2 separate regions of the Homo sapiens genome follow, and region 2 is linked to region 1. Evidence: fine-mapped expression QTL. Tissue or cell type: blood mononuclear cells. Region 1 holds a variant in brackets; the other region holds the start of a gene. All regions are shown on one strand. Distances are from middle to middle.

Region 1 (4,151 bases):
ACATGATAAGGACCCACCAAAGGGTCCCATGATGAAAGGGAGGCCTGGCTCAGTGGGGGACACATTCTTGGGTCACTGCTGGCATTGTGAGCCACTCCAGCTGTCCGTCATGTGTGAAGAGAGTTGGCAATGTGCCTGTTCCCTGTGCCCCAAGAGTGTGACTCTGCAAGAAGAAGCAGAGCAGTGATTTGCCCAGCTATGTTCTCAGAAGTGGTGTTCAGGGCATCATAGGAAAAGCATACCAGGCACTGGTGGCCACCGCCTGGCTGGCAGATCAGTGAGTAAACTGAGGCTCAGAAAGGGGAGCAACTTGAGCTGTGGCACTCCCCTTCCCCCCCCAGAACCCCAGACCGTGCACAGCAATGAGACCAGTGGGGGCTAATATGAAACAGCTTGAACAAGTGCAGCATTCACATTCAGTATGTTTTTTCTTTTCATTAAGATATTTAAAGCCATGATAATTTTTTCAAAGAAATGCTAAGCTTTTCCAACAGGGTTGGTAGGTGGATTATGAAAGATGAAGACAAGCCTGTGAGATTTTCACACATGTTTGTTTGTAGGAAGTGGCCAGGGATCAAACCCACCGAAGTCACCATCCAAAACAAGATTCTTCTCCAGCCAACATCATCGATTTCCACCACCAAAACCACCCTGGGCCACCTGGCGGCCGTGGAAGCCCGAGATGCTGTGTACCTGGTGAGACAGGGTGGAGTGGGCGTGTCCCAGGGAGCACAGCTCAGGTCGGCTGCCTTGGGAAGGGGGAGCTTCCCATCACCCGGCACCCAACATTTGGCTGGTGCAGCAGGCAACACATGTCAGCACACCCCAGAGCTGCAGGTCTCAACACTCAGGACAGTCACCATTCACAGGCACGAGGACATTAATGTGGGTCTGAGGCGTGATCCCAATGCTGTGGGAGCCCAGCTGAGGGACATCCCACCCAGATTAGGGGTGAAGGCTTTCCAAAGGCACAGTAGTGTCACAGCTAGGGAACATTGTCACCAGGCACGGAAGCAATGGTAGCCGTAGGCTCAGGGGGGACACAGCAGCAGGAGCAGTCACAGCTCCTGAGAACTTACTGGGAAGTACTTACTGAGAGCTTCTGCTCTTGACATGAGGCATCTCACTGAATCCTCCTAACAACTCCACAAGGGAGGTAAAATTATTATCATTTCATTGATGAGGACACTGAGGCTTAAAGAAACTTGTCCCTTCTATGCCACTACAGAGTGGCAGAGCCAGGATTTGATCCCAGTGCCTGTCAGACCCCCTGGGGACAGCCTGATGAGGAGGCTACACCCAGTTGCCACTTGAGGGACCTCTTGGCTTTGAAGATCTGTGGACCTTTGGTCCTGATGTCCAGAGAGAAACCTTGTCCTGCCCAGAGACCAGCTGGCCCCCTTACTGGGAGAGGCTGAAGTGCCCAGGGTCAGCCCTCCCCCAGCTTCCCCTCCAAGCCCCAGGCAGAGGGTGCAGTTCGGCCTGCTGAGTTCAGTGAGGGTGGGAGGCCTGGAAGGCCCAGCCTACCAAAAAATCGGGAGCCCTGAGCTCCCGAGAGGCCACAGTGTGGGACAGAGCTCAGGAAGGAGTGCTGAGCCTAGAGTCAGATAGACACAGGTCCTAGTCCCTGCTCAGCCTCCTTCTAGCTGGGTGACCCCAGGCCAGGCTCTGAGCCTCAGTTTTCCTGTCTTGTAAAATGGGGAAAACAACTAGGACTACCTGGTTTCTACCTGAGAAGTGACTTGGAGAACTCTTGCCAGTGCCTGGAATGGGTTAAAAACCACCTGCCAGCAAGTTACAGCATTGCCCTAGGGGAGAGGGTCCAGATGTCTCTCCTCATGTGGACCCCTCCTGCTACCTTCCTTCTAGAAATATTTAGCATCATTTGAGGAGGAGCTAAAGAGGATCCAGGATGACTGTACATCTCAGATAAAGGAGGCTCAGCGCTGGAAGGACAGCTGGAAGCAGTCCCTGCACACTATCCA[A/G]GGCCTGTATGTGTGACCCTCCGCCCCACCATGAATAAACACTTTCTTATACAGACTCCTTCCCTGTCCATCTACCTGCCTACCTACTTTCCGTCCATCCCTCCCTCCCTTCATCCCTCCACCCCTGCTCTGTGCCGGGCACTGTAGCTTTACCAGCGAACAGGACACAGCATGGTCCCTGCCCACGTGGAGCCCTCTTCCCATGAGGAAGGCAAGCATGAAAGGGGAATTCCACGTGGTTAGCAGGGAGGGTGAGTACCAGGAATCAGTCACTTCAAATAGGCACCAGAGCTTCAAAGGACATCACCTCCAAACAGCATGCTGGGCAGGGCACGTCATCTTGAAAAATGAAATAAAGGTCATGGGAAAATGATATTTTAATTTAACAGAATAAACAAGTATGGGTTATAATTGCAACTCTGCACTGGTTCCTAGACCCAACAAATAACTAATCCAATGTTGATTGGTATTTGTGCCACAATTTGTCTGAGCAAATTGCAATATTTTGGAAAAAAAAAAATCTTCCAGGCTCCTTTAGTCCTGTGTTGCCCAGATCATTCTCTTGGAGTCCTCCAGCCTGCCAGTCTCTTGTTCGTCAACTCTCTTCTTCAATTACATGGCGTGAGCGTACAGCCTTCATTTGTCGGTAGCTGTGTGTGTCATCTGGACAGGTTTCCTCAGCCATAGACCTAGGAGGCCCCAGCTCCCAAATTTCCAGCCCCTGAAAGCTGTGTGACCCTCCAAGTGCAGTTCCCTCACCTGGGGACACTCACTCTGCTCTCCTGGTTTGCTCCACCCAGTGAGGCCCTGCTTGGTTAGCTTGGTTAGCTTGGTGGCCTTTGTGCACTGAAGCCAGGAGAGTGAGGAGTCCCCTTCCATCAAGGCAAAAGCAATCTCCTGTTCTTTTCTGTGCTCCCCCCACCCCCACCCCAATGTGCTACCTTTCATTGCTTATTATTCCGAAAGGAATATATGCGCATTGTAGAAAAAAGAATTTATGAAACCAGCAAAAGGATAACTTTAAAATCCTGAGCCGGGCGCGGTGGCTCACGCCTGTAATCCTAGCACTTTGGGAGGCCAAGGCGAGCAGATCATCTGAGCTCAGGAGTTCGGGGCCAGCTGAGGCAACATGACGAAACCCCATATCTACTAAAAATACAAAAAGTTAGCCAGGCATGGTGGCACACACCTGTAATCCCAGCTACTGGGGAGGCTGAGGCATGAGAATCGCTTTAACCTGGGAGGTGGAGGTTGCAGTGAGCCAAGATCATGCCACTTCACTCTGGCCTGAGCAACAGAATGAGACTCTGTCTCAAATAAACGAATAAATAAATAATAAAATCCTGGAATCTAGAGACAGTCACTGTCCATAGCATCTTTCCATGTATGTGAGTTATTTTTATAAAATGGAATCATAACATGCATTAGGTTCCATAAACTGCTTGGTAAATGTTAACTGGATAAACCCTATGCCATATCCTTCAGTATTCATTTACATCATTGGTTTTCATACTTTTCTGACTCTGACCCACTGTATAAACATGTTCTAAACACACGGTCCTTGCACACATACACAACTTGAGACCAACAGGTCACAGGACAGCACTTAACCTTACTAGAAAGGCTGCTTTCTAATATTTTCTCCCTGCTTTTTAAATCCTAGCCCAGTCCACTAACTCAGTTCATGGCCCACAAAGGGGCTTTGATTGCAGTGTGGGACACTGTCATTTAAACAGCTGCAGAGTGTTCCCACTGCCTGGGGAACCAGATCGCCTCTGTCGGACAAGGGCGAGGATGTCCCATGCAGGGCTCCTAGAAAGAAGGCAGAGATGACATCCTCCCACATTAGCTCTTTGTACACATCTGTAATCATTCCTTAATCAGAGGGTGGCAGCTGTGGACATGGTGCCAAGTCACCCTCCAGGGAAACAGGCCACCCCCTCCCACCATTAAGCAGTGCCCATTGCCCATTGCCCATTGCCCATTTTTCTCGTCCACACCAAGGGTTCTAGTTTCAGGATTTGGGGGAAATTTTTTGCTGGTTTGGTTGGTGAGAAATCATATCTAAATCACTTTTCTAATAGTGAGTGAGACTGGACTCTCATCACCCCTATACCTGTACCCCAGGGACCCCCTTAGGCTCAAGAGGCCCAGCTTGACAAGCAC
Region 2 (4,151 bases), 69 kb before region 1:
ACTAGGCACGTTCCTTTCAGATAATTCATTGAGCTATTCACTTATGATTTCTATACTTTTAGATATGTACGCTATGCTTCAACATGCACATCCAATCAGTTGGTTAAATAACTTTTTTTCTGGCTAGTCACAGGTCAGATGGTTCAAGACTTGAATTACAGGGTCTAGATTCATATCCTAGATCTTCCTATCTTGGAGATCTTGGCCAAGTCACTGACTCTGAATTTCAGTTTCTTAATCAGTAAAATGGGTTACTTAAGGCACCCCTCTCATAGTCACTACAGGCATTAAATCTTCTCATTAAATATTTGCCTCTTGTGGTGGTCCTCATTGCTCTGCTTTGTCTGGACTATGCAGAAGACAGACAATAGCCTGGGATAGAGGAAGGAAAAGGATGGGGTCAAGAGACATTTTCAAAGTTAAGAGTGAGAGGGAAAAGATCAAAGATGATGCTGAGCTACAAGAAAAAGATCCAGAGGCCCTGGTGTCATTCTTTCCGTTCCCTATCTCTGGCTTTTTGCCCGTATCTAAACACAGGAGGTGGACTAACCAGATGATCTCTAACTGGTTAGTCTTTCGCTATGATATTATCAGGTTGGGAGGAGAATGGAAATGCCATCCAAAAGGCAAACACGAATTTCCACGTTTGATGCAAACTCAAACACAGTCTCAAAAACTTGGAAGTTAAGGGAGGTAAATTCTCAGTGCTGGGATTATGGGTTATTTTTACTTTCTCCATTGAAGTTTTTCATTTTTTTTTAATTTTTGACAATAAATATGGAGTTTAATCAAAACAAAATCCCATACTTCACATGTCCATGCCTGCTATTTATAGCCATATAATTTTTAAAAAGAAAGAAACCCCTAAATTACAGATGTGCCTGGAACCAGAACCCAGAAAGCATCTGGGTAGGGAAAATAGTTTCTAGTGTTCAAGGCCAAAGCCAGTAGGGCCTCCTTGGATGGGAAAGAGATATGAGACTGCAAGTAATTCCTGGACATTACCTATTTGTTATTGTGTTTTCATCCCTTCCCTCAGTCACCTACACGTTTTCTTTTTCCAGCTAAAATGAATCTAATCTTTGTTACAGTACTTCACCTTGTTAATAAAACCCAGGACTGAAGAATGAGAATAAAAGGGTTTTATACTCACCATTTCTTAATTTCTGATTCTAGTCTGGACAGAACAATCACTCATTCTAGAAAATTGGCATAGGGAGCATTTATTAGCAGTTGTAACATATCACTGCCAAAGGGAGGGATTCTGTAAGGCGGCACTGGGTGTCTCATATGTATGGGAAACCCGAGGCCACGTTCAGTGCCAACCACAAGCATTTTCATCTCTGGCCAGGCAAGCCTTGATCCCTGAATTTTGAGCTCTCAACCTCTTTTAAAATGAGAAAGAGATGGTTTCTTCCAGAGTCTTTCAGCTTCTAACTTACAGGCAAACACTACCGTATGCTGTCCCCCAGCAGAGATTGGTTTTAACCAAGGCAAATAAGTTAGGATGGACTTTGTTGACCGTGATGGCTCAGTGCTACATCTCATATATCCTACCACCTTTCAGAACATTTAATAGTGCTGCTCCTGGCAGCCCTGGGGTTGTAGTCCTTGTAGAGAGGAGGAACTGGCATTGAAAGAAATAGTTGAGTTTCACTACGCCACGTGGGGCGCTCCCATTGCTAAGAGCAATCTCCCCTCCCTGGGAAGAAAAGCGTGGGCGGGGCCGGGGCAGTCCCTCCCCTCCGCGTTGCCTTGGAGACCATGGGCGTCCAGCTGCAGTTGTCGCTGGACCGGCCCTGGCTGCCTTGAGAGGTGCTTTCTGCAGGCGGGGACGCGGCCAGGCCGGACGCAAGGCCTCCCTCCAATCTACCGGGCTCAGGGGGACGGCCAGGGGCTGCTCAGTCTACTTGGCGGGCTAGGGAGGGGGATGGCAGAGGCTGGTTGGGTCTTCTCAGCACACAGTAGGCGCCTAATTAGCGTGACCTGAATCAGGTTACTCTCTCCCTCCAATTCTCCTCCCTGTGTCCCATGGAGGGTGGATTAGGGTCCCGGATGCGAATTCTGCGCCGCATTAGAGTTCCAGTCCCAACCGACACCTTGAGCGCCGTTAACTTTTCCCCGAAGAGCATGGCAGAGTGAAGCACAAGCAATAATCCTGTATTATTCGCGTTCCCAGAGTCCCTTCGGATTTGCGCCATGCGCGGCGGGGAGAACCGGCCTCCTGCTCGAGTTCAGAGCTCATCTGAGGTTAGTTTCATCGTTTCGTTGAAAGTTAAAACCCTAAGTCGACGTTCCCCAGCCGCCTACCCCCCAGCAGAGAGTCCTTCCCCGGGGAGTCCTGCCCTGGGGTGCCGCCTCGAGGCCAGACGTCGTCCCGCCTGGACCTGAACCTGAGTTTGGGACGGGCGATTTCCCAACCTCAGGAATTGGAATTGAGACACCAAAGCCTAGACGCGTTTCCTGGACGACGGCTTCCCGGCAGGGGCATCCAGCCAGCGGCCAAGATGTCGTCAGTGGGGAAGGTGACCCAGGTTCCGAATGGGAAAGCCTACCAGCAGATCTTCCAGGCTGAGGTAGGAGCCGCCCTCTGTCCCGCTTTTCTCCATCCCCCTTCCCTTGCTTTCTTCCAAACTTCCCTCCCTCCCAGGGCTTCCCTACTGGAAATTGAATAAAACAAGGGCTTTGAAATTACTTTGATTTTAAAAATAATTCTTGCTTGTTCTTAAATCGTACCAATACAAAATTAGAATGTCAGTTCTTGAAAATTAGAAAACTTAAATTAAAATTTTAAATGTAAATTACTCAGAAATAGCCTGGATGGAACCACTGGGTGACCTCTGTTTTTCCCATGCATAAAAACATGACTAATTTTTGTATTTAAAAAATAGGTTTCATTCTGTACTAGTGTTTTGAAATCTGCTTTTTCTTCATAACAGTATCTCACAGACCCTTTTCTATGCCCGTGGGCGCCCATGTATTTCACCATACTGAGCAGCTCCCCACTTGTTGACCTAGGACTCCCATAACTGTATTAAAGTAAAGCCCTCTTGACAACAGTGTAGGTTGTTGAAATTGCCTTGTTCTCTCTAAAGCACTGTATAGACAAAACAAGATCTTAAAAGAAACACACAGACCCAAATTCTTCCTTTGAAGTTCTGTACTGCTTATTTAAAAGGGATTTGCATTCCTAATTTAAGCCTTAAATAATTATCTGTAAAACCTCTGGAAATTATAAAAGTATAAAGAAGCCAAAACAACAATTACATCACTCACATGATCCTGCTCTCTCTAAGGCCATTCTTAACTCATGGCATACTTCCCCCAGGGCCTTTTCCTATGCGTTTTAAATTTTGAGATCATACGGTATAGTTTTGGTTATAATTTCTAATTTCTAATTTCTATAATTCTATAATTTCTAATGCATGTAAGTGATATATTTAACCATATATCATCTCCTAAGCATTTCCTCAGGTTATAAAAAATTATTTGTGGGTCTCATCTTTAACAAATGCCTAACATTCCATCAAACAGACATACCATGTTTACTCAGCCAATCCCTATTATTAGTCAGTTCTGTTTTTCCAATTTCTTGTGATTATAAAAAAGGCTGAGATGTTCATCTTGATCTTCATTTAAGGTTCTTAGAAAGAGGCCTTCTTTGAAGTGGCTGAGTGACTGTTACTGGGAGGAGAGCTCTCCTATAGGGATATGACCTGGGGCTGAAGGCCTCCTGAAAAGTACCTTCCTGGGGGCAGCTCTCTGGATGTCTTTCTAGACAGCCACCATCAGCCTGAGAGTGCTAGGAAGTCAGCAGCTCTGACCACTCCCCCATCCTTGGTCCTCCCTGGATTCAGGTGCAGCTGGTCCACTCCCTGGCGGCCACCAGGAAGCGGGCTGCAGAGCGTTCTGTGACCCTGAAGAGTGGCAGGATACCCATGATGAAGAAGGTGGAGACTCCTGAAGGGGAGGTGATGTCTCCCCGACAGCAGAAGTGGATGCACAGCCTCCCCAACGACTGGATCATGGAAAACCCTGTTCTCCACAGGTAGGTCCTGTTGTCCATGCCTCACCCCCATGCACTAGGGTACCTGAGCCTTCAAAAACTCAAAAAGAGCCAGCACAAGATGAGTAGCCTGTAGGAATGAAGT

Evidence for each region. PIP is the estimated chance that this variant, and not a neighbour inherited with it, causes the effect.
Region 2: CCDC180 starts here. The variant in region 1 is the best candidate, but not a certain one, in a credible set for the expression of CCDC180 in blood mononuclear cells (TOPMed, PIP 0.83).

Annotation. Positions count from the first base shown.
Region 1 is chr9:97,374,894-97,379,044 of GRCh38, forward strand. CCDC180 (coiled-coil domain containing 180) reads left to right here. Exons shown (of 37, transcript NM_020893.6): 36 at 561-696; 37 at 1,870-3,858. The coding sequence ends at 2,001. It overlaps SUGT1P4-STRA6LP-CCDC180 (SUGT1P4-STRA6LP-CCDC180 readthrough), which reads left to right. Exons shown (of 45, transcript NR_036529.1): 44 at 561-696; 45 at 1,870-2,402. Among named protein-coding and RNA genes, the nearest start is that of MIR1302-8, 13 kb to the left of the region's middle. The variant A/G (reference allele first, on the strand shown) is at 1,986.
Region 2 is chr9:97,305,557-97,309,707 of GRCh38, forward strand. CCDC180 (coiled-coil domain containing 180) reads left to right here and starts at 2,103. Exons shown (of 37, transcript NM_020893.6): 1 at 2,103-2,250; 2 at 2,427-2,576; 3 at 3,858-4,048. The coding sequence starts at 2,508. It overlaps SUGT1P4-STRA6LP-CCDC180 (SUGT1P4-STRA6LP-CCDC180 readthrough), which reads left to right. Exons shown (of 45, transcript NR_036529.1): 13 at 2,180-2,250; 14 at 2,427-2,576; 15 at 3,858-4,048. RefSeq lists a silencer at 1,571-1,865 and enhancers at 1,571-1,865, 1,808-2,308.